7 linked regions of the Homo sapiens genome follow. The protein of the gene in region 4 interacts with the protein of the main gene of each other region in a pairwise test. Each region holds a gene or a part of one and is shown on either strand. Other genes may lie near its edges. The genes, in order: RAB3IL1, DRD5, FTHL17, NBPF19, MXI1, MACO1 and NEDD9.

Region 1 (3,500 bases), on a different chromosome or scaffold from region 4:
GGCTCAAATGCTCCCTCTCCGTGATGAGCCTCCCACCAGGGCACCAGCCATCCCCAGCCAGGCTCTTGGCTGCCAAGGTGAAATCCTCCCCAATTTCTGCCCCTTGCTCCACCCTGGCTATTTTGTTCTGCTGCTCCCCTGCTCAATGCCAGGTGAGTAGCTGGAGGACAAATGCCAGGGCTACTGCGTCGTTATTTATTGGCAGGGGCACAGCCAGCAACTGATAATCATGGTTCAAGAAAAGAAGGGGAGGGCACAGAGCAGACCAGTCAGGAAGAGGCAGACCCTAGCTCCCGGCCTCTCTGGAAAGCCTGGGGGTCCACAGGAAACCTGCCAAACTGCCTCCTTGCCCTGTGGGGGCAGCAACTGTCCCTGTCCTGTCGGCGCTGCTGCATCCTGACCACCCCTCGGCACAGTAAACACACGGCTTGGCGGGGCTTTCCCACATGGGCAGGAAGGAGCTAAGACCCTCAGCTTACTTGGTGCTGCTACAGTCAACCTCGGCCACCTTCACTGTGGGCAGCGTCTGCGAAGCCACCGGCTCAATGGTGAGCGTGTTGTCCTCCACGGCGGCCCGTACCAGCACCGAGAGCTGTGGCAGACCAGGGAGGCAGGCAGGGTGGTAAGGGGCTGGGCCCTGGCGGAGGGGTGTGTCCCCCAGCTGGCCCCGCCCCTGCCATGCCTCACCTCCTGCATTGTGAAGTCCAGGCAGGGGCCCACGTCCTCTCGGTACACCCTTTCCAGGAAGGGGCAGGTCTTGTCCAGGGTGGGGGATTCCCTCCAGGCCTGGAACTCTGCAAACAGGATTGTGTCCACCTGTGGGGGAGGGCAAGCGAGGGTGGGGGCGGTCAGGGTACTGGGGCCAGCATAGAAGATGCAGGCTGAGCTGAAGGGGAGCGAGGGAGGACGTGGGGCAGGCCCAGCAAGCCAGCAGGTCGATCCCCAGCAGCCGTGCAGGGAAGCCAAGTCCAGCAGCAGCAGAGCTCCCTTCTGCCCTTTGCACCAAAGAATTTAGAACTAAAAGTTTTGTTTCCAGGCCGGTGTTAAATTTCTTGGCGCTACTGGATTTTAGAGTGGGGTGCAGGGCTTTGTCCTGAAGACCCTCAGTGCCTCCTTGAGGAGGAAAAGTCAAAGAGCAACTAGCAGGAGGCCACAGGTACCAGCAGGTACACAAGCACACACAAGCACGTGCACACAGGAGGGGACACACACAGGCTGCCCTGGGCCCACACCTCAGAGGTGACTGCTGGCCTGCTCCAGGCCACATGCAGAATGAGGGAGGCTGGGAGGGGGCAAAGTGGGAGGCCCCTCTTTGGAGCCATTTACCTGTCGGGAAAAGGAGGGAGAGGGAGTGGAGGCAGGGGCTGGGGGCTCCCCAGGTGGGAGCGGCCAGGCCGGCTCGTAGGTGAGGTGAACCGCCTTGCTGGGGACCACGCAGAGGAGCAGGGAGAGCAGCGGGGCCAGCCCGGGCTGGGCCGGATGGACAGACAGACAGACAGACAGACAGGTAGACAGGTGCACAGAGACAGAACAGGAGGAAGGGGAGAAGTTAATGTACATTCAGAAGCTCAGAGCTCAGGAGGTGGATGAGGGCCTGCTCGTCTTCCCTGGAGGCCCTGGAGACAGAGGTGGAAGCCAGGATGGAGTCGAGTGGGCTGGCGCCAGGGACCCAGGAAGCTGAAGGCACCACAGCCCTCTGAGGCACTACCTGGGTGCAGCCTTGAACTCAGCTCTTGATGTCCCTGTCTCTGGTTCCTCCAGCAGCCCCGGGAGGCCCCATTTATCAGGTGAGAAAGCTGAGGTGCTGACAGGTGGCCTCATTTGCCTACAGACCCATGACCATGAGTGTCAGCCCAGCCTGGGCCCAGCAACTGGTGTGGCCAGCTGAGGTGGGACGGAGACACCTCTCCAAAGGCCACGCTTGTCTCAGCCCCACAGTCAGAGGGTGCCAGAAACCCCTTGAGCACAGGGCTGTCACCAGGTGGTCCTGGGGCTCGAGGCTGTGGCCACACGGGGTCCAGGCAGCCTCTCCCCTGAGGCCCAGTGGCTGCTGCTTGGCCTCTTAAGGCCAAGGAAGTGTGTGTCTCAGTGGAGGCCCCAGATCCTCAGGGCCAAAGCCAGCCTCAGGTGCAGAGACCACTACCTACTGCTTGGAGTCAGTGGGGCAGGGAGGGGGCCTCAGGTCCCCAGATGGTATACCCTGGAGGCTGCAGGCCAAGTGCCTCAGATCACAGGAGGTTGGAGAGAAAGGACCTGCCCAGCCCTCACATCCCAGAGAGGCGCAGGACAGGCTCCAGGTCACACAGCATGGGGCAGGCTGGTCCTCACTGGGCTCGGACCCTGCCTACCGCAGGCACTGCCACCCTTCCCCGTGCCCAGAGCCCGCTTCCCACCCTCACCTCCTTGCCCTCTCTGTCTGGGGTGAGGGTGTGTCCCGCAGCGGGACACACGGCGGGGCAGAGGGTGCTGCTGGTGCTCTTGTGGCGAGAGTGGCCCTTTCGGGGCCCGGCCTTGGTGGGGCTCAGCAGCTGGGGGTGAAGCTCGCGGTTGGGAGAGGCTGGTGTGGACGTGATGACCAGCGTCTTCAAGGCTGTCACCTCTGCCTGCAGCATGTCGATCTGCATGGGATGGGATGGCTGTCAACCCTCACCCAGACTGGATGCCATCCTGGCTGCCACCGCCTATCAGCCTAACTCAGGACAATGCACCCCTGCAGTGACAGGCACTTAGTCCCACCCGACGCCCTCAGAACAGCCTTCGAGGCAGAGACCCAGACACTCGTTTTACACATAGGGAAACTGAGGCTCACAGAGGCGACATGGCCTGCCCAAGGTCACTCTGTGAGCAGGATTCTGTTAGGAACAAGTGTCTGGGAGCTGGCTGGGCCTCCCATGAGAGTTCTGGGACCGCCCCCAGGAGCCAGGAAAGGCCCAGGCCTCACATTTTGCAGATGGGCAACCAGGCTTGGAGAGAGGAAGCGACTTGCCCAGGCTCAGACAGCCATACTGAGTGAGGTTTCTGCTTTGTAAAGTGGGGCTGGGAGGAGAGGGAAGAAGGTACAATAATCACAGGGTCCTCCCAGCCCCAGCACTATCCCAGAAAAGGCTCTGCCATGCAGCAGAATCACTGATGGAGCCCCGGGACACTGGGCCCTGTGATCTCAGACCCCCACCCTTCCCTTCCCTCCCTGGGCCTAGGTTCACCCATTCCTGCTGGCCCCACCGGGCCAGGTGAGCGTCCACTCGGGCAGCAAAGCTCAGTGCTCGCTGAGCCGGGAGGCAGGGGGGGTGCCTGGGCTGGCCTGGGCAGGCGGGGATGGGCCTCACCTTGCCCCGAGCCTCCTTCAGCTGCTTTTCTGATGCCGCCTGCTTCATGTTGGCTTCTCGAACCATCTTGTGAGCTTCCTAGGAAGAAGGCAGTCCCTGCGTGAGTGGTGAGGAGCCAACGGACGCCCAGATGACCCATTCCCCAAGTTGTTCCCGCGCCCAGCCGGTGTACCT
Region 2 (4,112 bases), on a different chromosome or scaffold from region 4:
AGTGGTCCAGCTCCCAGAAGATGAGGAGAGACCAGAGGTGAGGATGGCCCTTCAGTTTCAGGTTTAGGCACCTGGACAGATGGTCTTGCCCTCTCCAGCGGCAAAAAGCACTGAGGGGGAAGGAGGTTGGGGGAAGGGACTGTGTAGGCTGAGCAGCTTAAGTCTGAGAAGGTGGGCCACTTGCAGATGTTGGTCCAGGGTACAGGTGCGTTTGGTGGAGGGGGAGACTAGGAAGGGAGGAGAAAGTCCAGTCTGTTTCTAGACCTCACCATGCTGCAGGTGTCTGGGCCAGCAGGTCGCAGCCGGAGCTATGCAGCTGGCTGCTGTCACATCCCTTTCTCTCCCAGCTGCCTTCAGCTGAGCTTAACGCCAGTAGAGGCCGAAACACTTCACAAATGCAACTTGTCAGCTGGGAGGTGCACTCAGAGCTCAGGAACACTGTTTTCCCTCTTTATTGTTTTCCATCATTCTTTTTTTTCAGTTTGGGTTTTGGGCCCCGTCAGTTCCTTTTCTGTTAAACACTGAGCTATTTATCCATCCCTCTCAAGGTTGAAAAAGAGAAAGGCTGTAAAAGTGCCCTGCAAAGAAGAGGCCTCCAACTCTATGGGGGTGGGGGGCTCTCTTCCTCCTCTTGTCTTCTGAGTTCATTCCGAATTATTCCCCAAAGGAAAAATCGTTCAAGGACTGGGGGCGGTGGTGGGGAAAAGGACAATCTCCCAAGAGGTCAGCTGAAGCCCCAGCCTCAGGGTGTTGAGAGAGGGGCTGGGGGAAGCGGGAGCCTGTTCCTAGGAGACACTGTCTACTGGACACCTCATCCTAGACGGCTTCCATGAGTTCTGACACTGTCCCAGGAGTAGGAATCATTATCCCACGCTGTGGAGAAGGAAACCAAGGCCGGGTAAAGTTATGTAGGGCCCTTAAAGTCGCAGAGCCAGGAATAAAGTCCGGATTGGGACTCGGGTCTGTGGGTAATCCAAGGCTGCCCCGCTTACCCTTCAAATGCTCTTTCCCCCTCCGGAAGCCCTCGCGTCCTCATCCTTACCCCACCTCTTGTTCCCCAAGCGTGGCCAGGGCTAAGGCTCCAGGGATGCGCCAAGCACCCTTCGGTTTTCCCGGGGAGAATTTTCCCCGGCCCGGGGACTAGGGTCTGGCGCTGGGGCGCCCCTCGGACCTGCGGGATCGCCCCTACACTCTGGCGCGCTGAGGGCGGTGAGCGAGGGCGCCAAGGCACAGGTGGGGCGGGAGTCGAGCGCGGAGGCTCGGGGGGCGGGACGCGGGGCCTGGGAGCGGCCAGGGACCGCGGCAGCGCCTCAGTGCCAGCCTGGCGCCCGCGACTGCCTGCCCCAGCCCCTCAGTGGCGGCTTGCTCTCTTCTCTCGCTCCGAACCAGACACAGCCGCTGCCGCTGCCGTCCGGCGCGCTACAGACTCCCGAGAACAGCCCTGGCTGTCAGCGAGCACCAGCCGCTTCCTGTCCCCATCGCGGAGACTGGAGGGGCGCACCACGGCCATGGAGCCAGAGGCGCTTCAGGAGGCAAGAGAAGTCCCCGCGCGCTCCGCAGCCCGGCGCAGCTCATGGTGAGCGCCCTCTGGGGCTCGAGGGTCCCTTGGCTGAGGGGGCGCATCCTCGGGGTGCCCGATGGGGCTGCCTGGGGGTCGCAGGGCTGAAGTTGGGACCGCGCACAGACCGCCCCTGCAGTCCAGCCCGAAATGCTGCCGCCAGGCAGCAACGGCACCGCGTACCCGGGGCAGTTCGCTCTATACCAGCAGCTGGCGCAGGGGAACGCCGTGGGGGGCTCGGCGGGGGCACCGCCACTGGGGCCCTCACAGGTGGTCACCGCCTGCCTGCTGACCCTACTCATCATCTGGACCCTGCTGGGCAACGTGCTGGTGTGCGCAGCCATCGTGCGGAGCCGCCACCTGCGCGCCAACATGACCAACGTCTTCATCGTGTCTCTGGCCGTGTCAGACCTTTTCGTGGCGCTGCTGGTCATGCCCTGGAAGGCAGTCGCCGAGGTGGCCGGTTACTGGCCCTTTGGAGCGTTCTGCGACGTCTGGGTGGCCTTCGACATCATGTGCTCCACTGCCTCCATCCTGAACCTGTGCGTCATCAGCGTGGACCGCTACTGGGCCATCTCCAGGCCCTTCCGCTACAAGCGCAAGATGACTCAGCGCATGGCCTTGGTCATGGTCGGCCTGGCATGGACCTTGTCCATCCTCATCTCCTTCATTCCGGTCCAGCTCAACTGGCACAGGGACCAGGCGGCCTCTTGGGGCGGGCTGGACCTGCCAAACAACCTGGCCAACTGGACGCCCTGGGAGGAGGACTTTTGGGAGCCCGACGTGAATGCAGAGAACTGTGACTCCAGCCTGAATCGAACCTACGCCATCTCTTCCTCGCTCATCAGCTTCTACATCCCCGTTGCCATCATGATCGTGACCTACACGCGCATCTACCGCATCGCCCAGGTGCAGATCCGCAGGATTTCCTCCCTGGAGAGGGCCGCAGAGCACGCGCAGAGCTGCCGGAGCAGCGCAGCCTGCGCGCCCGACACCAGCCTGCGCGCTTCCATCAAGAAGGAGACCAAGGTTCTCAAGACCCTGTCGGTGATCATGGGGGTCTTCGTGTGTTGCTGGCTGCCCTTCTTCATCCTTAACTGCATGGTCCCTTTCTGCAGTGGACACCCCGAAGGCCCTCCGGCCGGCTTCCCCTGCGTCAGTGAGACCACCTTCGACGTCTTCGTCTGGTTCGGCTGGGCTAACTCCTCACTCAACCCCGTCATCTATGCCTTCAACGCCGACTTTCAGAAGGTGTTTGCCCAGCTGCTGGGGTGCAGCCACTTCTGCTCCCGCACGCCGGTGGAGACGGTGAACATCAGCAATGAGCTCATCTCCTACAACCAAGACATCGTCTTCCACAAGGAAATCGCAGCTGCCTACATCCACATGATGCCCAACGCCGTTACCCCCGGCAACCGGGAGGTGGACAACGACGAGGAGGAGGGTCCTTTCGATCGCATGTTCCAGATCTATCAGACGTCCCCAGATGGTGACCCTGTTGCTGAGTCTGTCTGGGAGCTGGACTGCGAGGGGGAGATTTCTTTAGACAAAATAACACCTTTCACCCCGAATGGATTCCATTAAACTGCATTAAGAAACCCCCTCATGGATCTGCATAACCGCACAGACATTGACAAGCACGCACACACACGCAAATACATGCCTTTCCAGTGCTGCTCCCTTTATCATGTGTTTCTGTGTAGTAGCTCGTGTGCTTAGAAACCTCACCCCATTGATTGGTAGTTCGAAGAATTGGCAGAAGCAGTTGCAATAAACTCAGTCAAATGTACCCAGCCTACCAGAGATGGACCAACGATCCTATGAGAGAAGAGAGTATGGTGCTGGGTCCTTAAAAAAAAAAATGATACTTGGTCCTTAAAAAATATGCTCTCCCCTCCCTTTTTAAACAAATGGCTTGTTCAGTCACTTGTTTGTGTTTGAATTGATTTTTAAACAGCAGGTTGTGTGTGTGTGCAGTGATGTGGTGGGAGCACAGCTTTCCTGGGTCTGGATTCCCGTGGCTTTGTGCTTATGTCATTTCTTCTCTCTGTGCTGGTGGGGGCCTCTTTACCATAGCTTAAGAAGTATCCCTGATTTATTCTGGTGTCTAATAAACACAGATTATTTGTATTATGGGGTGACTATCTTTGCTTTGCTACATTGGGTTTCAGGATTGCTTCTGAAGAAACGATGAGTGCATCCTTAAAATGCAAAGAAGATATTTGCTGGGTCTGGAAGTACATGCTTAATCTCTTTACAGTTTGGCCTTAAAGATACACCAGGGCAAAGGACCTTGAGGAGCTTCTGTTTTCTCAGGTTTCTTTTTATTACTTATACCCATGTTGGGTCTGTGCTGAAACCTGGCTTCAATGGCATGGCATTAGATCTTCTCAAGACCAGATGTTTTTTTTCTCATATGGAATCTTTTTTGAAGTAACATAAGACAACTCTCCTTATTCCTAGACAGATGCGATCAGTTCATTGAAAAGATCATGTAGAATAATATCTTGAATCTTTCTCCATCTGACAACTGTAGCATGTTTTAGAATGACAT
Region 3 (2,445 bases), on a different chromosome or scaffold from region 4:
AAAGACAATGACAGTGTTGGAACCTTCATACATTGTTAGTGGGCATGTAAAATGATGAGGGGACTTTGGAAAACAGTCTAGCAGTTCCTCAAAATGTTAAACAGAGTCTTAACATATGACCCAGCAATTCTAGTCCCAGGTATATACCCAAGGGAGTTGAAAACATATGTCTATTATAAAAATCCTCATAGCTGCATTAGTCATAATAGTCACAAAATGGAAACAACTCAAATGCCCATCGACTGATGAATGAGTAAATAAAATGTGGTATATCCATACAATGAAATATAATTCAGCCATAAAAAAGACAAAAGTTAAAGACATTATGCTAAATGAAAGAGGCCATATAAAGGCCGCATATAGTATGATTTATTTGAAATGTCCAGAGTAAGCAAATCTCTAGAAACAGAGATTTCATTTGTGGTTGTCGGGCCAGTGAGGAAGGCGAGATGGGCAGTAACTACTCATGGGTAGGGGATTTCATTTTGGAATAAGGAAAACGTTCTGAAATTAGATTTTTGGTGATGGGGTGATAGTTACACAACTTCATGAATATACTAAAAACCATGGAAATGTTTCAGAGGGTGAATTTTATGGCAGAGGAATTGTATCTCAATAGTGCAGTTTGTTGTTGTTGTTTGACACAAGTCTTGCTCTGTTGCCCAGGCTGGCGTGTAACGGCACAATCCCAGCTCACTGCAACCTCCGCCTCTTGGGTTCAAGCAATTCTCCTGCCTCAGCCTCCCGAGTAGCTGGGACTACAGGTGCGCGCGCCAGCATGCCTGGCTAATTTTTTTTGTATTTTTAGTAGAGACGGGGTTTCACCATGTTGGTCAGGTTGGTCTCCATGTCCTGACCTCGTGATCCGCCCGCCCCGGCCTCCCAAAGTGCTGGGATTACACGCGTGAGCTACCGTGCCCGGCCTAGAGCAGTTATTTTTAAAAGATGGTCTTGAAACATTCAGCGCCAAGTGGCCGGGATTTCCGACGGAAGTCAGCGCTTGTGCCCCCACCCCCTTGCCCCGCAACTCTGTCCCCCGCCGCCCCTCCCCCCACCGACAGAGCGCGCTCCTCCCTAACGGTCGCCACTGCCCACTTCCACTGCCCACTTCCGGTTTCATCGCACACCCGCCTTTCACTATCCGCCATTCTTGTCACCTCAGCTGCTGCCCTCGCTACCGCACCGACTTCGCCCGTGTGCTCGCCTGCACTTGCGCTGCCCGCCATGGCCACCGCCCAGCCGTCGCAGGTGCGCCAGAAGTACGACACCAACTGCGACGCCGCCATCAACAGCCACATCACGCTGGAGCTCTACACCTCCTACCTGTACCTGTCTATGGCCTTCTACTTCAACCGGGACGACGTGGCCCTGGAGAACTTCTTCCGCTACTTCCTGCGCCTGTCGGACGACAAAATGGAGCATGCCCAGAAGCTGATGAGGCTGCAGAACCTGCGCGGTGGCCACATCTGCCTTCACGATATCAGGAAGCCAGAGTGCCAAGGCTGGGAGAGCGGGCTCGTGGCCATGGAGTCCGCCTTCCACCTGGAGAAGAACGTCAACCAGAGCCTGCTGGATCTGTACCAGCTGGCCGTGGAGAAGGGCGACCCCCAGCTGTGCCACTTCCTGGAGAGCCACTACCTGCACGAGCAAGTCAAGACCATCAAAGAGCTGGGTGGCTACGTGAGCAACCTGCGCAAGATTTGTTCCCCGGAAGCCGGCCTGGCTGAGTACCTGTTCGACAAGCTCACCCTGGGCGGCCGCGTCAAAGAGACTTGAGCCCAGATGGGCCCCACAGCCACGGGGTCCCTTCCCTGGGTCAGGCCACTAGGCGGGGCGTGCATGTTGCCCTTTCAGAACGTTCTCTTCAGTTTTATCTTTCAGTTTTACCATTGTTAGCAAAAAAGTTATCTGGTTCTCAAAGCAATAAAGGTGTCCATTTGATACACCTGCAACTCTCACCTTTTAGGAATCAGGGCAAATCCCCATGCAGGTTTAAAGTAGGTATCCAGCAGTCTCTCCACCCACCCCTGCCCCATCTGCATGCAGCTCAGGATTTGCAGGGGTGGAGTGGAATGGTATTTTATGGGCCCCTGGAAAACACATTAGTCTTCCCTTTGTAAACTACCAGGGTATGTGGGGTGGGATGGGGTGGGGTGGTCACTCTTGGGCCCTGGTGGCTGTGGGTGCATGGGCACGGTAAAGTGTAAAACGTGGTCTGGAATTCATCATAGTGGTTGCCTCTGGGGAAGAAGTGAAGGAAATGGGATTGGGCAAGGATTAAAATAAACAAAGGGTCTTCAACTTTACATGAAAACTTGTAGTTTATTAAAATATGCCAATGTTAATGTTTGTGGATTCTGAGTAGCAAGTGGGGGCTCTGGGTGACAGCACAGCAGGGTACTTCTTTGGCAAGCTCACTTTGGGTGACAGTTGTAGTGGGAGCCT
Region 4 (3,500 bases):
GGAAGACCAGGTGGAGGCTTATCACCTTCATAGTAAGGTACTCACTGTCCACGTCAAGAGCCAAGCCAAGGTACTGTTCCTCCAATGAGTAAACAGCACTGCTGTAGGGCTGGCCTAAGTCAGGCAGTTCAAGATAACCTGAAGGAGTCGAATAACATCTATCCAGTGGGTCCTGCAAGACTTCAGGCTCTTTCTCAGCCAGCAGCTCCCTGCTGAGCCTGGAAAAGTAGGAAAAAGTAAAGAATAAGCCAGGGGGAATCAGAAACCACACAGCCCCAGCTAGATTTCATGGCTAACATAAGGAACTGTTTAAAAAGAAAAAGGACAGATCCATTAATGAGGTAATGAATTATTGCCTTTATGTTGGGATAGACCAGGGCCAGGTAGAAAAGAATGAAAGAGAAAGACAGGGAGAGGGAGAGAGAGAGAGAGAGAGAGAGAGAGGAGAAAGTGAGCTCAGCGAGTTGGCCGGGTGACACACTGATGAAGGGGTCAAAGGACACTCTGAGTTAGTGCCCTCGGGACACACAGCGAACAGTGATCATGAAAAGAGTGGGCTCAATAATTTTCCATAAACTTGCTCAAGATTCCATGCAGTTGCCATACAGCCTTTGAGGTATGGTCAACCTATAGTAAGTTAGTAAATGTTAAGGGGAGGAAGAAATGGAAACCTAAACATCTACTGCAATGAAAACCAACAGCCATGTCAGTAGGAGTAATTCAACCTTCGTTGAAAACATGAAATTGAACACACTCTTGTTTTCCCTGGACCTGGCATCTCCAGGTGTCAACACAGAATTAAGCATCCATAATTGCTCAAAGTTACCTGGGGCATGATGGGTCTTGGTCTTCTTCCACTTCTTGGTACTTTTCAATTTCTGCAATAAGTTCAGACATGGACAGACATATGAAGCTGGTTCTCCTACACACATAACAATCCACTGTCTAATCCTCACACAGGGACTTCAGGCTCCTCAGCATGAGAATAGGACACTGTGAGAGATATTCTTCAGGAGGCCTGAAGGCTGATCACCATAGAGATTCCTTGGTTTTTGTCCCAGAAACTGTGGGTAAAATTCCCTATTCTGGTAGATCGTTATCCCAATATCATTTGTCCCAAGTTTGTGCAAATGGTTATGCCATATTTTTCCAATCGATTTAAAGCAAATACCCCCAAATGGTTGCTAGGAGAAAAACTGCACTATTCAGCCCTGTCTCATCAAATACTCAGATTGTTCATGGTAGCGAGGATTTTAGACGCTGAAATTAGAGTGAAGGATGAAATCTACAAGATCTACAAAATTGAGACAAAATCAGAGTTGTGTGAATTTGTCACATCTGCCCAGGTCCAGTGTCATGAGAGTAGGATTAGGGCTCCACAGGCATGGCCTGAGACTAGGGAGAGAGCCTTGCTCACTGACCCATCCCTTGTCTGGGCTGCCAAGTGGAACTAGAGTTTCATTCAACCTACATGTGCCTATAGGTCCTCCCTGTGGCAATGACATCTCTCAGCTCAGTAAGGGCCACTTGCAGTAGGAATATGACCCTAACCAGAAGACTCAGTGGATCCTTATCACCTTCATAGAAAGGTACTCACCATCCATGTCAACAGCCAAGCCAACACACTGTTGCTCCAATATGTAAAAGGCACTTCTGTAGGGCTGGCATGAGTCAGTCAGTTCAAGACAACCTGAAGGAGTTGAATAACATCTATCCAGTGAGTCCTGCAAGACTTCAGGCCCTTTCTCATCCAGCAGCTCCCTGCTGAGCCTGGAAAAGTGGGAAAAAGTAAAGAATAAGCCAGGGGGAATCAGAAACCACACAGCCCCAGCTAGATTTCATGGCTAACGTTAAGGAAGAGTTTGAAAAGAAAAAGGACAGATCCATTAATGAGGTAACAAATTATTGCCTTTATGTTGGGATAGAACAGGGCCAGGTAGAAAACAATGAAAGAGAAAGACAGAGAGAGAGAGAGAGACAGAGACAGAGAGAGAGACAGAGACAGAGACAGAGAGAAAGTGACCTAGTGAATTGGCCAGGTGACATACTGGTAAGGGAGTAAAAGGACACTCTGAGTTAGTGCCCTCATGACACACAGCAAACTGTGATCATGAAAAGAGTGAGCTCAATAGTTTTCCATAAAATATGCTCAAAATTCGATGCAGTGGCCATGAGAGTACAGCTTTTGAAGTATGGTCAACCTATGGTACGCTAGTAAATGATAAGGGGAGGAAGAAATGGAAACCTAAACATCTACTGCAATGAAAACCAACAGCAATGACAGTAGGAGTAATTCAGCCTTCGTTGAAAACATGACATCAAACACACTCTGGTTTCCCTGAATCTGTTGCCTCCAGGTGTTAACACAGAATTAAGCATCCACAATTGCTGAAAGTCACCTGGGGCATGGTGGGTTTTGATCTTCTTCCCCTTCTTTTCTTCCCCTTCTTCTTTCCTTCTTTGATCTTCTTCCCCTTCTTTTCTTCCCCTTCCCCTTCTTTTCAATTTCTGCAATAAATTCAGACATGGACAGACACATTAAGCTGATTCCCCTACACACATAACAATCCACTGTCTAATCCTCACACAGGGACCTCAGGCTCCTCAGCATAAGAATAGGACACTGTGAGAGATATATTTCAGGAGGCCTGAAGGCTGGTCATGATAGAAATTCCTCGGTTTTTCTCCCAGAAACTGTGGGTAAAATGTCCCTATTCTAGTAGATCGTTATCCCAATATCATTTGTCCCAAGTTTGTGCAAACAGTTATGCCATATTTTTCCAATCAATTTAAAGCAAATACCCTCAAATGATTTCTGGGAGAAAAACTGCAATATTTAGCCCTGTCTCATCAAATACTCAGATTGTTCATGGTTGTGAGGACTTTAGACACTGAAATTAGAGTGAAAAAGGAAATCTACAAACCCTTGAGTCAAAATCATAGTTCTCTGAATTTGTCACATCTGCCCAGGTCCAATGTCATGAGAGTAGAATCAGAGTGCCACAGGTATGGCCTGAGACTAGGAAGAGAGCCATGCTCACTGACCCATCCCATGTCTGGGCTTCCAGGTAGAACTAGAGTTTCATTCAACCTACATGTGCCTATAGGTCCTCACTGCGGCAATGACATCTCTCAGCTCAGTAATGGCCACTTGGAGCAGGAATATGATCTTTATATGGAAGACTCAGTGGATGCTTATCACCTTCATAGAAAGGTACTCACCTCCCACGTCAAGAGAAAAGCCAACATGTTTTTCCTCCAATGCATAAAAGGAACTTCCATAGGGCTGGCAGGAGTCAGGCTGTTCAAGACAACTGGAAGGAGTTGAATAACATCTATCCAGTGAGTCCTGCAAGACTTCAGGCTCTACTACCTCCAGCAGCTCCCTGCTGAGCCTGGAAAAGGAGGAAAAAGTAAAGAATAAGCCAGGGGAAATCACACACAACAGAGCCCCAACTAGGTTTCATGGGTAGCATAAGGAAGTGGTTAAGAAAGTAAAA
Region 5 (3,500 bases), on a different chromosome or scaffold from region 4:
GGGAGGCGGAGCTTGCAGTGAGCCGAGATCATGCCACTGCGCTCCAGCCTGGGCAACAGAGTGAGGTTCCGTCTCAAAAAAAAAAAAAAGAAAAGAAATGATGTTGTGCCTTTCTCAATCCATTGTGTCAGGAAGATACACGATGTCGAAGTTTTTACTACTGGTGATGTGAATTTTTATATGTAGATTTTAAAGTACAACACCCTTTATTTCTCTTTCCATCTATCCTAGAATATTTATCTTTGACAGAGTTAAAGAACAGAAGTCAACCAAAAAAGAATGGTTTGAATTTTACTGATTGTTCTTCCCAAAGCTTCCACCACATCAGGCTTCATATCACATTAAAAGATCCCAGAGGTGAACACTGGTGATTTGAAGTCTTACATTTGGAGAAAGGAGCTCATGAGCTCTTTAGGATTCTAAAACATGAGACAAGTGACAGAGTTTTTTTGTTTGTTTGTTTTTAGGACTCTGATTTTGTTTTTTGTTTTTGACTTTTTTAAGTGGAAATTTTCAAACATACTTAGAATAGAATAATGAACTCCTGTATACCCACCATTCAGTTTGAATAGCTGTCAACTTGTTTCATCTGTTCTTCACTACGCTCACCCTCAATATTTTTTCTGGAATGCTTTAACTCAAATCCCAGATAACATCATTTTGCCCCTAAATACTTTAGTATGTATCTTGAATAAATAGGATTTTTAAAAATGTAATTATAATGCTATTATAATACCCCACAAAATTAATTCAGATAATCTTTTTTAATATCATCTAATACCCAGTCTGTGATACATTTTCTCCAGTTGTCTCAAAAATGGCATTTTACCATTGGTATGTTTAAATCAGGATCCAAAGGCCACATTGCATTTGTTTGATGTGCCTTTTAAGATATTAATCTATAATAATTTTTTCTCTTCCCCCTACACCGTTTTGGTAGAAACAAAAACTGATTTCTACATAACATCTCAAAAAGACTTCTTTGGCAGAGAAAACATGAAGGAATATATAGGTATAGATCTGTGTGTTGTATATATGTACATATTTTTTTAAACATCAAGAGACTGAGTCATTTTTCTTATAGAATTTCCTACATCCTAGATTTGGCTGGTTGAATCCTCATGGTGTCATTTAACATGTTATGTCCTTTATATTGACTGTAAACTGGTTGGTAGATGCAGAATACTTCATAGGTGGTGCTTTGTACTTCCTGTTATGTCAGTATTGTGTGTAGTTGTTGTTGCACTTTTAATATTAATCAATAGGTTCAGGTAAGGTCATTTTAATACATTTATATAAATGTATAGCCTTTAACTTAACAGTTTTAGCAATTATTGCCCTTATTTCATTGGGTGTCATAAAATAGTGATTTTCTAATTGTGTCATTCCTCTTGTATTTATAAACTGTTTTTCTCCTATAAACATTTTCTCATCAACTTTTCGGTTATCCTGAAATAAAGTTCATACAGGGAAGGTGGGATAAATGCTTGGTCTTGGTTTTTGCTTTATCAGTTTTCCAAACAGAGTTGGTAACCTAGCAGCTTCCAGAAGTAACAAGTTTTGGTTTTACTATTTTTTGATTATATCATGAACTCATGTTTTGCTGTACTGAATGTGTTCCAATCCATTGCAGTCATCCTTTTAAATTCTTTTGAATGCTCAAACTGTCCCAGATTTGCTGAGTAGGAGCCTTTTAAATAGTTTTTTCATCCTTTTTAACGCAACCTTTTTAACACAACCCTAGGAGTTCTTGTTTTTCTGTTTTGTTATTTTTCTATGTAAAAGTTTATTTTTGTGTGGCAGTTTTCAAGAAAAGTCTACCAGAGGCAGTAGCAAGAACCTGAAGTACATGCTACATTTATCAGTAACAGTGAAATATAGCAGAAATAACCCTGACCTTGGTGTCCCAGTCTTTCCTCTATTGCTAACTAGCGGAAACCTCTTCTTAGGTCTTTAGGTTTTAGCTGTCCTTCCTGTTACCTCCTCCTTGTACCCACCCCAACTACCTCCAAATTTCAGAGAGGAGGGTGTATTTTCATCACTATAGCTCTCATTTTTTTTTAGTGTTCCCAGTGTACCTTACTTTAGCGGTACCTTACCAAGTACCATCCTTATCCTGAGCTGGCAACCTCCTTTTTGTAGTGTTATGGGGGCTTTTAGTTAACATCTGTGGTACACTTGGCTAAAGCAGTTTCTCATTTTACTTTGTTTTTTTGGGTTTTTAAAAAATTTTTTTAAACATATTTTTAAATTTTATTAAAATAGAGATGGGCCTTGTTGCCCAAGTGGTCTCAAACTCCTGGGCTCAAGCAATCCTCCTGCCTTGGCTTCCCAAAGTGCTGGGATTATAGGTGTGAGCCACTGTGTTGGCCATCATTTTACTTTATTTTGACTGAGTTCAGCATGCTCTTTTGGATAGTGTGCCTTGTTATTATCTTCTAGTTGTAGGTTGGATGAGTGTTCAGTGGTGCTGGGAAACAATGGCTTCTGAAGCAATTCGGATATAGAGCCAATATATGAATTCACAGATTATTTGGACAGCTGCCTACATTTTAAAAACATCTCTAGAATCTCTAAAACTTTTGAAGCAACAAGCCCTTTTGAAAAGTATATTCCTGGAAATAGCTTCACCCTGTCCTTTTGGCCTCACAAGAATCCACTTTTTTTTTTTTTTTGAGAGAGAGTGTCTCGCTCTGTCGCCTAGGCTGGAGTGCAGTGGCGTGATCTTGGCTCACTGCAACCTCTGCCTCCTAAGTTCAAGTGTTTCTGCTGCGTCAGCCTCCCAAGTAGCTGGGACTATAGGCGCGTGCCACCATGCCCAGCTAATTTTTCTATTTTTAGCCTAGACACGGGGTTTCACCATATTGGTCAGGCTGGTCTTGAACTCCTGACCTCGTGATCCACCTGCCTCAGCCTCCCAAAGTGCTTGGCCGCACCCGGCTGAATCCACTTTTTTTTTTTTTTTAAAGCAGTTGTGATTAGTGTGAACCCTTAAAAAGTCAGTGCCAAATGTGAAACATCAGGCTTTGAATTTAAGTAAGGTAACTGAAAAATCCTGGGTTTCACTCTAGCTCTGATGGGAGAAAACAACTTTTTAACTCCTTTTTGTTTTTAACATGTGTATTGATTTATGTATATTATTGATGATTGAATATCTAGTATTTAACAATTAAGATTTTTTTTTTTATTTTTAAGAGACAGGGTCTCACTCTGTCACACAGGCTGAAGTGCAGTGGTGAGACCTTGGCACACTGCAGCCTCAACCTCCTGGGCTCAAGAGTGATCCTCCCACCTTGGCCTCCCGAGTAGCTGGGACTACTGGATCACCCACTATACCCAGCTAATTTTTGTGTTGTTGTGTTTTTTTTGGTAGAAATGAGGTCTCACTTTGTTACCCAGGCTTGTCTCAAACTCCTGCACTCAAGTGATCTTCCTGCCTTAGCCTCCCAAAGTGCTGGGATTACGGACGTGAGCCACTGCGTCCAGCAACATTATCTATT
Region 6 (3,500 bases), about 120 Mb from region 4:
AAGGATTACCTGATATGGATTCTTCGATCCTTATACACCACAATGGAGGTATCCCAGCCAACAAAAAACTCTCCACAACTTTGCCAGAGATAGAATACCGAGAAAAAGGGAAAGAAAAGGACAAGGATGCCAAAAAACACAACCTTGGAATAAATAACAACAATATTCTACAACCTGTAGACTCTAAAATACAAGAGATTGAGTATATGGAAAACCATATCAATAGTAAAAGATTAAATAATGATCTTGTGGGAAGTACAGAAAATCTCTTGAAAGAGGACTCATGCACTGCTTCCTCAAAAAATTACAAAAATGCCAGTGGAGTTGTGAACTCTTCACCTCGAAGTCATAGCGCCACAAATGGGAGCATTCCTTCCTCATCTAGTAAAAATGAGAAGAAGCAGAAATGCACTAGCAAGAGCCCAAGTACACACAAGGACTTAATGGAAAACTGTATTCCTAATAACCAGCTAAGCAAACCAGACGCACTGGTCAGGTAAGTGCACATGCTGCATCCTTACTAACACTTTCCAGTAAACTTGACATACTCTTGACATACTCCCATATGGGCCTGTAGGGATTGTTTGTAATCAGATATTGTGACTAGTGACGTGTGGTGTTTTACATGAGTTTGTTGGCCACCTTGTGTTATTGTGTTGAAGCATTGATTTCAGCTCTTTGCAGTGTTCTGAATAATGAGTGACACTGATTACTTCCCACATGTGACAAATTGACCTGTAACTTGATTCTTCTAGTCGTGTTGTAAGGCACTTCTTTGGTCCTTGTCCTTTTCTGTTTGCATGTCCAGAGTTCTCTTGGCGTAAACACAAAAAGAAGAGTTTGTGCTTGTTCACGCAAATCTCTGTCAAACAGATATACATTGCAGGAGAGGGGTGAGAAAGTTGTCCTTACTACTTTGTGCTTGTTTTGTTTTTCTGTTTGTTTTTCTGCACTTAGAATATGAATTATCCTAGATAACTCTGGGAAAGTTAGATTTGAAAAGCAATCTCTTTCACAAAAATCCATGGAGAAACAGTGTTAGACACAAAGTTTAATTAGGAATGTTGCTTTTCTCATTTTAATTAAAAGAATTTTTTTTTTTTTTTGAGACGGAGTCTTGCTCTATTGCCCAGGCTGGCACGATCTCGGCTCACTGCAACCTCCGCCTCCTGGCTCCAAGTGATTCTCCTGCCTCAGCCTCCCAACTAACTGGGATTATAGGTGCTTGCCGCCACGCCAGGCTAATTTTTTTGTATTTTTAATAGTGACAGGATTTCACCATGTTGCCCAGGCTGGTCTCAAACTCCTGACCTCAGGTGATCCACCTGCTTCGGCCTCCCAAAGTCCTGGGATTACAGATGTGAGCCACCGTGCCCGGCCATAAAAGAATAACATTGTTTTATTACATTGACTGGCTCAGACTTAATTTTACTATATTTTATATGGCTTATGTTAGGCAAACACAAATATGTTCCTTTCACCTCAGATCTTTAATTTGGAAACTGAGATCTAAACTGGAGCTTTTTTGTGTGTATGTAACTCAAGAGGGCAATTGAAACTCTCCCCTTCCAGTAAGTTATATTCTTCTTTCTCTGGCTTGCTTTAGGCAGCCCTTTAGGCAGTCCGTTTATTCTAGGAGGGAGGCTTTCCAGCATTATAAATGGTATGAACTAGATTATTAATTTGTTTTAATTTTCTGATTGGCAGTTAAACTAAGCGAGGTATATTTGGGTTCTACTAATACAGGCTCTAGAGGTTTCACAGCCCCCAGGCTACTTTTGGAAGTGTGCTATTTGCTGTTGCCTGGCTGGCATCCATATCCATTTGTTAGGACATTCTGGCCATTGTGCCCAGCAGAAAAAACACGTGGAAGAGAACTCTCCTCCAGATGCCCATGGGAGAAAGACCAATTAGTTTACCTTCTATTTCAGAGGAATATCCCACAAATTCACTAAATGCTATACACAAAACATCTGTCACAGCTATTTACCATCCTTTCTCCTACACATGTTTTTTTTTTTTTTTGAGATAGGATCTCACTGTTTTGCCCAGGCTTGAGTGTAGTGGCGTGATCACAGCTAACTGTAGACTCTACCTCCCCAGGCTCAGGTTTTCCTCCCACCTCATCCTCCTGTGTAGCTGGGACTACAGGCGCATGCCACTATGCCTGGCTAATTTTTTAATTTTTTTGTAGAGAGGAGATCTCGCCATGTTGCCCAGGCTGACACAAGTTTAGTAATAGCGGTCAAGCTATTACTAAATGATGGTTTGTGATATTGATTGACTCTACTATCTGATCTGCTTTTAGTAGAGAAGTTCAAGGACCCAGATGGCTAATTGTCCAGTAAGCTGGAGATGATGACATGGGTCCAGTGCCCCCGTGCCTACACCTAAGGAGTATGCTGCTTCTTGTGGTCACTAATGCGTACTCTGCCTTGACCTACAGTGTCCCAGGTATTACTCTGTTTTGGAGAACTACTTACTATCAAATGACTAATAGACAACATTATATTTAAGTAGGTTTATAAGCTCCCATGGTATTATTTTCAACTTTTAATGTTATAAAAAATAAGGGGATCGATAGACTGGATTAAGAAAATGTGGCACATATACACCATGGAATACTATGCAGCCATAAAAAATGAAGAGTTCATGTCCTTTGTAGGGACATGGATGAAACTGGAAACCATCATTCTCAGCAAACTATCGCAAGGACAAAAAACCAAACACCACATGTTTTCACTCATAGGTGGGAATTGAACAAGGAGAACACATGGACACAGGAAGGGGAACATCACACTCCGGGGACTGTTGTGGGGTGGGGGGAGGGGGGAGGGATAGCATTAGGAGATACACCTAATACTACATGACGAGTTAATGGGTGCAGCACACCAACATGGCACGTGTATACATATGTAACAAACCTGCACATTGTGCACATGTACCCTAAAACTTAAAGTATAATAATAATAAAATAAAATAAAGAATACTATGCAAAGAATATAGGTTTTTAAATCACACCTTGGTTGGATCCTGGACCTTCTATTTACTGTCTGAGTGGCCTTGGGCATATTATTTGACCCCTCTGATTTCCATTTCTTGGAAAGTTGAGATAAAACTAATAGAATAGTGCTGTTGTTAAGGTACAGGCATTCAATAAATGTTGGTTCTCTTCCTTCCCCCCCCTCAAAAAAAAGGGTGATGTAAATATCCAATAATGGGAGAAATTTAAAATAAATTATGGTCCATCCATTTGATAAACTTTTCATATAGATACTATAAAATCATACTTTCAAGCCATATTAAAGAATATGGGGAAGTATGTCAAAGCATTTCATGAATAAAGGAGAAAGCAATTTAATGAAAAACAATTTTTTCTAATATACATAGAAAAATGATTTAAAGGGAAAATAACCAAATTGTTAACAATAGTTGTTATCCCTTGATAGTATTGGGCATTTATTTTTTCTTTTTATTTTCATACATTTTCACATTTTTCT
Region 7 (3,500 bases), on a different chromosome or scaffold from region 4:
GCCAGCAGGAATTACTGCAGAGAGATGGCTGGAATGTTCAAAGTAAATAAGATGGAGGGGGGTGTTGTTGGCAAAGTATAAACAGGGTTTTTTTTTGTGTGTGTGTGTCCCCTTTTCATGCCCGTACTCTTTGCAACCATCTATCACCTAGGAAACCGTCAGTTACTCTCTGGCATTTTAAGTTAGAAATATAGTATTTCTTCCCAATGGCCCTGTTTCATTTGTCTTGGCGAGAAGTCCTGGTAATTCAGCCTATATGTTCTTGCAGAGTATTGCCTTGGTCCTAGTGGTTGGCATTTCAAACCAATTTGTTCAGATTTCTTTCTGACCCTAAAATGATCTAAACATAGACAACCAAGACCTCTTACTTTACATTTATGTCATTCTAATTGACTGCAATTGGATAAGAGAGTTCACCCTGAACTTCTCATGTACTCCCAACTTACATTCTTTGGATTTTATCTTTGGTTTTTTGAATTGACGACTTTCTCTTCCTCACTGATATTTCTGTTATGGGTAAACAATTCTAGTGAATGTCTCCTTTAAACACTTTTATCTATATAAAAATTCCATATCTATATATCTGTATATCTTTGTGGGTATGTGTATATAACATCATATAATAGCTGCCATTTATTAAATGCCTAATATCTGCTAGAAAGGACAATTGTCATATATTATATCCTATAACTATCTGACAAGACAGGTATTATTCTCATTTGATAAATGAGGAAAAGAAGGTTTAAAGTAGCTAGCATAAAACTATACTGTTAGAAAGTAACAAAAGTGGGATCTGAAACAAAGCCCATGTTTTTTGTTGTTGTTGTTGTTTTTTTACTATGCCATATAGTATTAAGATCCTCTTAAATGGCTATTTGTGTATACATTTTGTCTTCTATGAGCAAAGTCTTGTAATTTCAGGAATACTGAGTCCAATGAACAATAATGAAGGAATCAAGTCATTAGTATATTAGCAAGTGGGGTCATATGCTGTTAGGGCCCTATGCTTACAATACACATCCAGGCCCACAGAATACTCAACAATATTCAACCATCTCAACCTAGTAACTGGGATTTTGACATAATTCTGTCACCAAGTCTTGAGTACATACCATCCTTTCAACATCTATTGAGCATCTACCATACAAAGAGAGCTGGAGCCAGCTTGCATTGTCTGCTTACTATATGCCAAGAGCCATAGTAAGTACTTCATTCATATATTATCCCAGGTCTTCGAATAGTATGAGGCAGTTATTCTTATCCCTATTTTACAGACAATGCTGTAAAATGAGGCTTAGAGAGCTTAACTTGCCTAAGGTCCAGAGCTATAAGCCATAAGGAACAGAAATGCCTTTCTTCAAAGCCCATGCTCTATCATGTCTCTAACACAAGAGCATAAAACACCAAGTCTTGGCCCCCTCAAAACTTCACAGACCCTAGATCATGTTTTTTATTCAAGGACTTTTCGATCAATCTGCCTCTACATACAAATAGAGGGTGGGTCTCTCATATTCAGTGGGGTTTACTTAAAACTAAACAGGCCCAGTAGGCAACCTATCTGAGTTACAGGTATCCTTTAGATAACGATTTGATTGAAAGAGGTCAATAAGTAAGGTAGTGCTAACAGAGTAGGGCAGAGGTGAAAAGCATAACAGCCTATTTTAGGGATTATAGGATGGTCCAGGAGACACAGGTTTCAGAGTTTGATTGTTTAAACAGAGTGGATGGATGAGGAGACTTTACTAGCGGGACTGACAGGCCACTCAAGTCATGTAAACGCAAACAGAGAGGCAGATGAATGGGGGCAGTGAGGGACCAAGATTTCCCATAGCAGAGTCTAAGGAGAAGGAAAAATGAGGGCTACAGAATGTGCATTAAAAGTGTCACATCTGTGTGTGGGAGGCAAGGGGGCGGCAGTAGATAGGTGCGGGTGGGGGGCTGGGGAGTAGGGGGTTGGAAGTAAGATCTACGGAAGTCAGTATTAAAGAAGCGTAAGGAAAGCCTGAAAAGAAGAAGAAGAAGATAAAAGGAGAACCAATGAGGTCATAAAAGCACGAAAGTGGGAGAGAATTTGCAAAAAGGCCGGGTGCGGTGGCTCACACCTGTAATCCCAGCACTTTGGGAGGCTGAGGCAGGTGGATCACCTGAGGTCAAGAGTTCGAGACCAGCCTGACCAACACAGTGAAACCCATCTCTACTAAAAATACAAAACTTATCCAGGCATGGTGGTGGGCACCTGTAATCCCAGCTACTCAGGAGGCCGAGACAGGAGAATCACTTGAACCCAGGAGGCAGAGGTCGCAGTGAGCTGAGGTGGCACCACTGCACTCCAGCCTGGGCGACAGAGTGAGACTTGATCTCAAAAAAAGAAAAAAAGAAAAGTGGAGAGGAAGGTGTTTTTTTCAGAAGACTGGAGTGAAGGGAGAGACAGGGAACCACTGAATTCTGAGAACAGGGACTGACGTGTATCCCAGCAAGGAAAGGATGCTAAAGGAATCCTTGGCATGTTACGCACTGTACAACTTGCTAAATTTGGTATTATCAGGCACCTTCAGTACTCTAAAGGCTTTTATCTCTGTGTAGGTAAGCCATTTAGCTCTGCAAATGGGTTTACTAAATAAATAAATAAATGCATAAATACATAAATAACCAAGTTGATATTTTTCAAAGCATGTTTTAGTGATTTTAAATCCATAGATCTCATACAAGGTTTAAAAAGGAAAAGGACAGGAGTCCTACATTTGGATTGGTTGCAAAAATCATACAGAGAAAAATAAAGCATTTTAAACCAAAATATCAAAGCAAGGAAATAATTGGGAATTTAATAGCTTATGCATGACCATATTGACTAAATTAAAGATCCTCTGTCATTATTTTCCTCGGTCTTGCTTGAGGAAATACGAATACTTTCAAAGTCCTTTCCAAAGCGTTTCACGGCACACAGGTTCTCCTTTCCCTGACCTACCCCATTCAACCAGAACACAGGACTCTGACTTTCAGAATGCACCTTTCTTAATGGCATTGTAAGTTCCGTCTGTAATTTTTCTTCAGTCAAAACGTTAAAGAATGAATTTGTTGCATGGTAGACGAGATAAATAATTTAGAATTTTAATGTAGGCACGTAAGGGCTCAGAAATTTGGCAAAGCCACAAAAGCGTCTCTGCTCAGCCATTAGCAGCCAGGCCAAGGGGCCGCTGAGCCCCCGCCCGGGCTGGGCCTGAGGTGGGCGGGGCCTCGGGCCTGGCAGGCACAAACGGGGTGGGGTCTCGGGGGCTTCTGCTCAAACACAGCTGCGCAGAGACCCTTCCATCACCCTCCTGGGAAACAGCACAACCATACACCTCCAGACCCTCAGGAGGGAGCCTTCACTGGGTAAGCAAACCAAGGCCATCGAGGCAATCACCTAACCCCGCCAGCCCCCGCCCAATTAAGAACATGCTCTGTATATGAAGGGGATTTTGTAGAAAATTCTTAATAAATGAAGCCCCCGTAATTTACTA

What was found.
Region 1: the proteins of NBPF19 (region 4) and RAB3IL1 interact in a two-hybrid assay, tested with the Homo sapiens proteins (one large-scale study listed by BioGRID).
Region 2: the proteins of NBPF19 (region 4) and DRD5 interact in a two-hybrid assay, tested with the Homo sapiens proteins (one large-scale study listed by BioGRID).
Region 3: the proteins of NBPF19 (region 4) and FTHL17 interact in a two-hybrid assay, tested with the Homo sapiens proteins (one large-scale study listed by BioGRID).
Region 5: the proteins of NBPF19 (region 4) and MXI1 interact in a two-hybrid assay, tested with the Homo sapiens proteins (one large-scale study listed by BioGRID).
Region 6: the proteins of NBPF19 (region 4) and MACO1 interact in a two-hybrid assay, tested with the Homo sapiens proteins (one large-scale study listed by BioGRID).
Region 7: the proteins of NBPF19 (region 4) and NEDD9 interact in a two-hybrid assay, tested with the Homo sapiens proteins (one large-scale study listed by BioGRID).

The regions. Positions count from the first base shown.
Region 1 is NC_000011.10:61,904,067-61,907,566, forward strand, and holds part of RAB3IL1 (guanine nucleotide exchange factor for Rab-3A), read right to left. Parts: coding exon 3,499-3,500; intron 3,405-3,498; coding exon 3,327-3,404; intron 3,037-3,326; coding exon of another isoform or gene 2,942-3,036; intron 2,619-2,941; coding exon 2,400-2,618; intron 817-2,399; coding exon 688-816; intron 593-687; coding exon 480-592; intron 1-479. UniProt on the Homo sapiens protein: Guanine nucleotide exchange factor (GEF) which may activate RAB3A, a GTPase that regulates synaptic vesicle exocytosis. Promotes the exchange of GDP to GTP, converting inactive GDP-bound Rab proteins into their active GTP-bound form.
Region 2 is NC_000004.12:9,780,322-9,784,433, forward strand, and holds DRD5 (D(1B) dopamine receptor), read left to right. Parts: upstream 1-1,312; 5' UTR 1,313-1,708; coding exon 1,709-3,142; 3' UTR 3,143-3,688; downstream 3,689-4,112. UniProt on the Homo sapiens protein: Dopamine receptor whose activity is mediated by G proteins which activate adenylyl cyclase.
Region 3 is NC_000023.11:31,070,733-31,073,177, reverse strand, and holds FTHL17 (ferritin heavy polypeptide-like 17), read left to right. Parts: upstream 1-1,136; 5' UTR 1,137-1,224; coding exon 1,225-1,776; 3' UTR 1,777-1,945; downstream 1,946-2,445.
Region 4 is NC_000001.11:149,548,045-149,551,544, reverse strand, and holds part of NBPF19 (NBPF family member NBPF19), read right to left. Parts: intron 3,396-3,500; coding exon 3,223-3,395; intron 2,509-3,222; coding exon 2,400-2,508; intron 1,771-2,399; coding exon 1,598-1,770; intron 879-1,597; coding exon 827-878; intron 219-826; coding exon 46-218; intron 1-45.
Region 5 is NC_000010.11:110,280,605-110,284,104, forward strand, and holds part of MXI1 (max-interacting protein 1), read left to right. Parts: intron 1-3,500. UniProt on the Homo sapiens protein: Transcriptional repressor. MXI1 binds with MAX to form a sequence-specific DNA-binding protein complex which recognizes the core sequence 5'-CAC[GA]TG-3'. MXI1 thus antagonizes MYC transcriptional activity by competing for MAX.
Region 6 is NC_000001.11:25,458,397-25,461,896, forward strand, and holds part of MACO1 (macoilin), read left to right. Parts: coding exon 1-496; intron 497-3,500. UniProt on the Homo sapiens protein: Plays a role in the regulation of neuronal activity.
Region 7 is NC_000006.12:11,226,169-11,229,668, forward strand, and holds part of NEDD9 (enhancer of filamentation 1), read right to left. Parts: intron 1-3,500. UniProt on the Homo sapiens protein: Scaffolding protein which plays a central coordinating role for tyrosine-kinase-based signaling related to cell adhesion. As a focal adhesion protein, plays a role in embryonic fibroblast migration.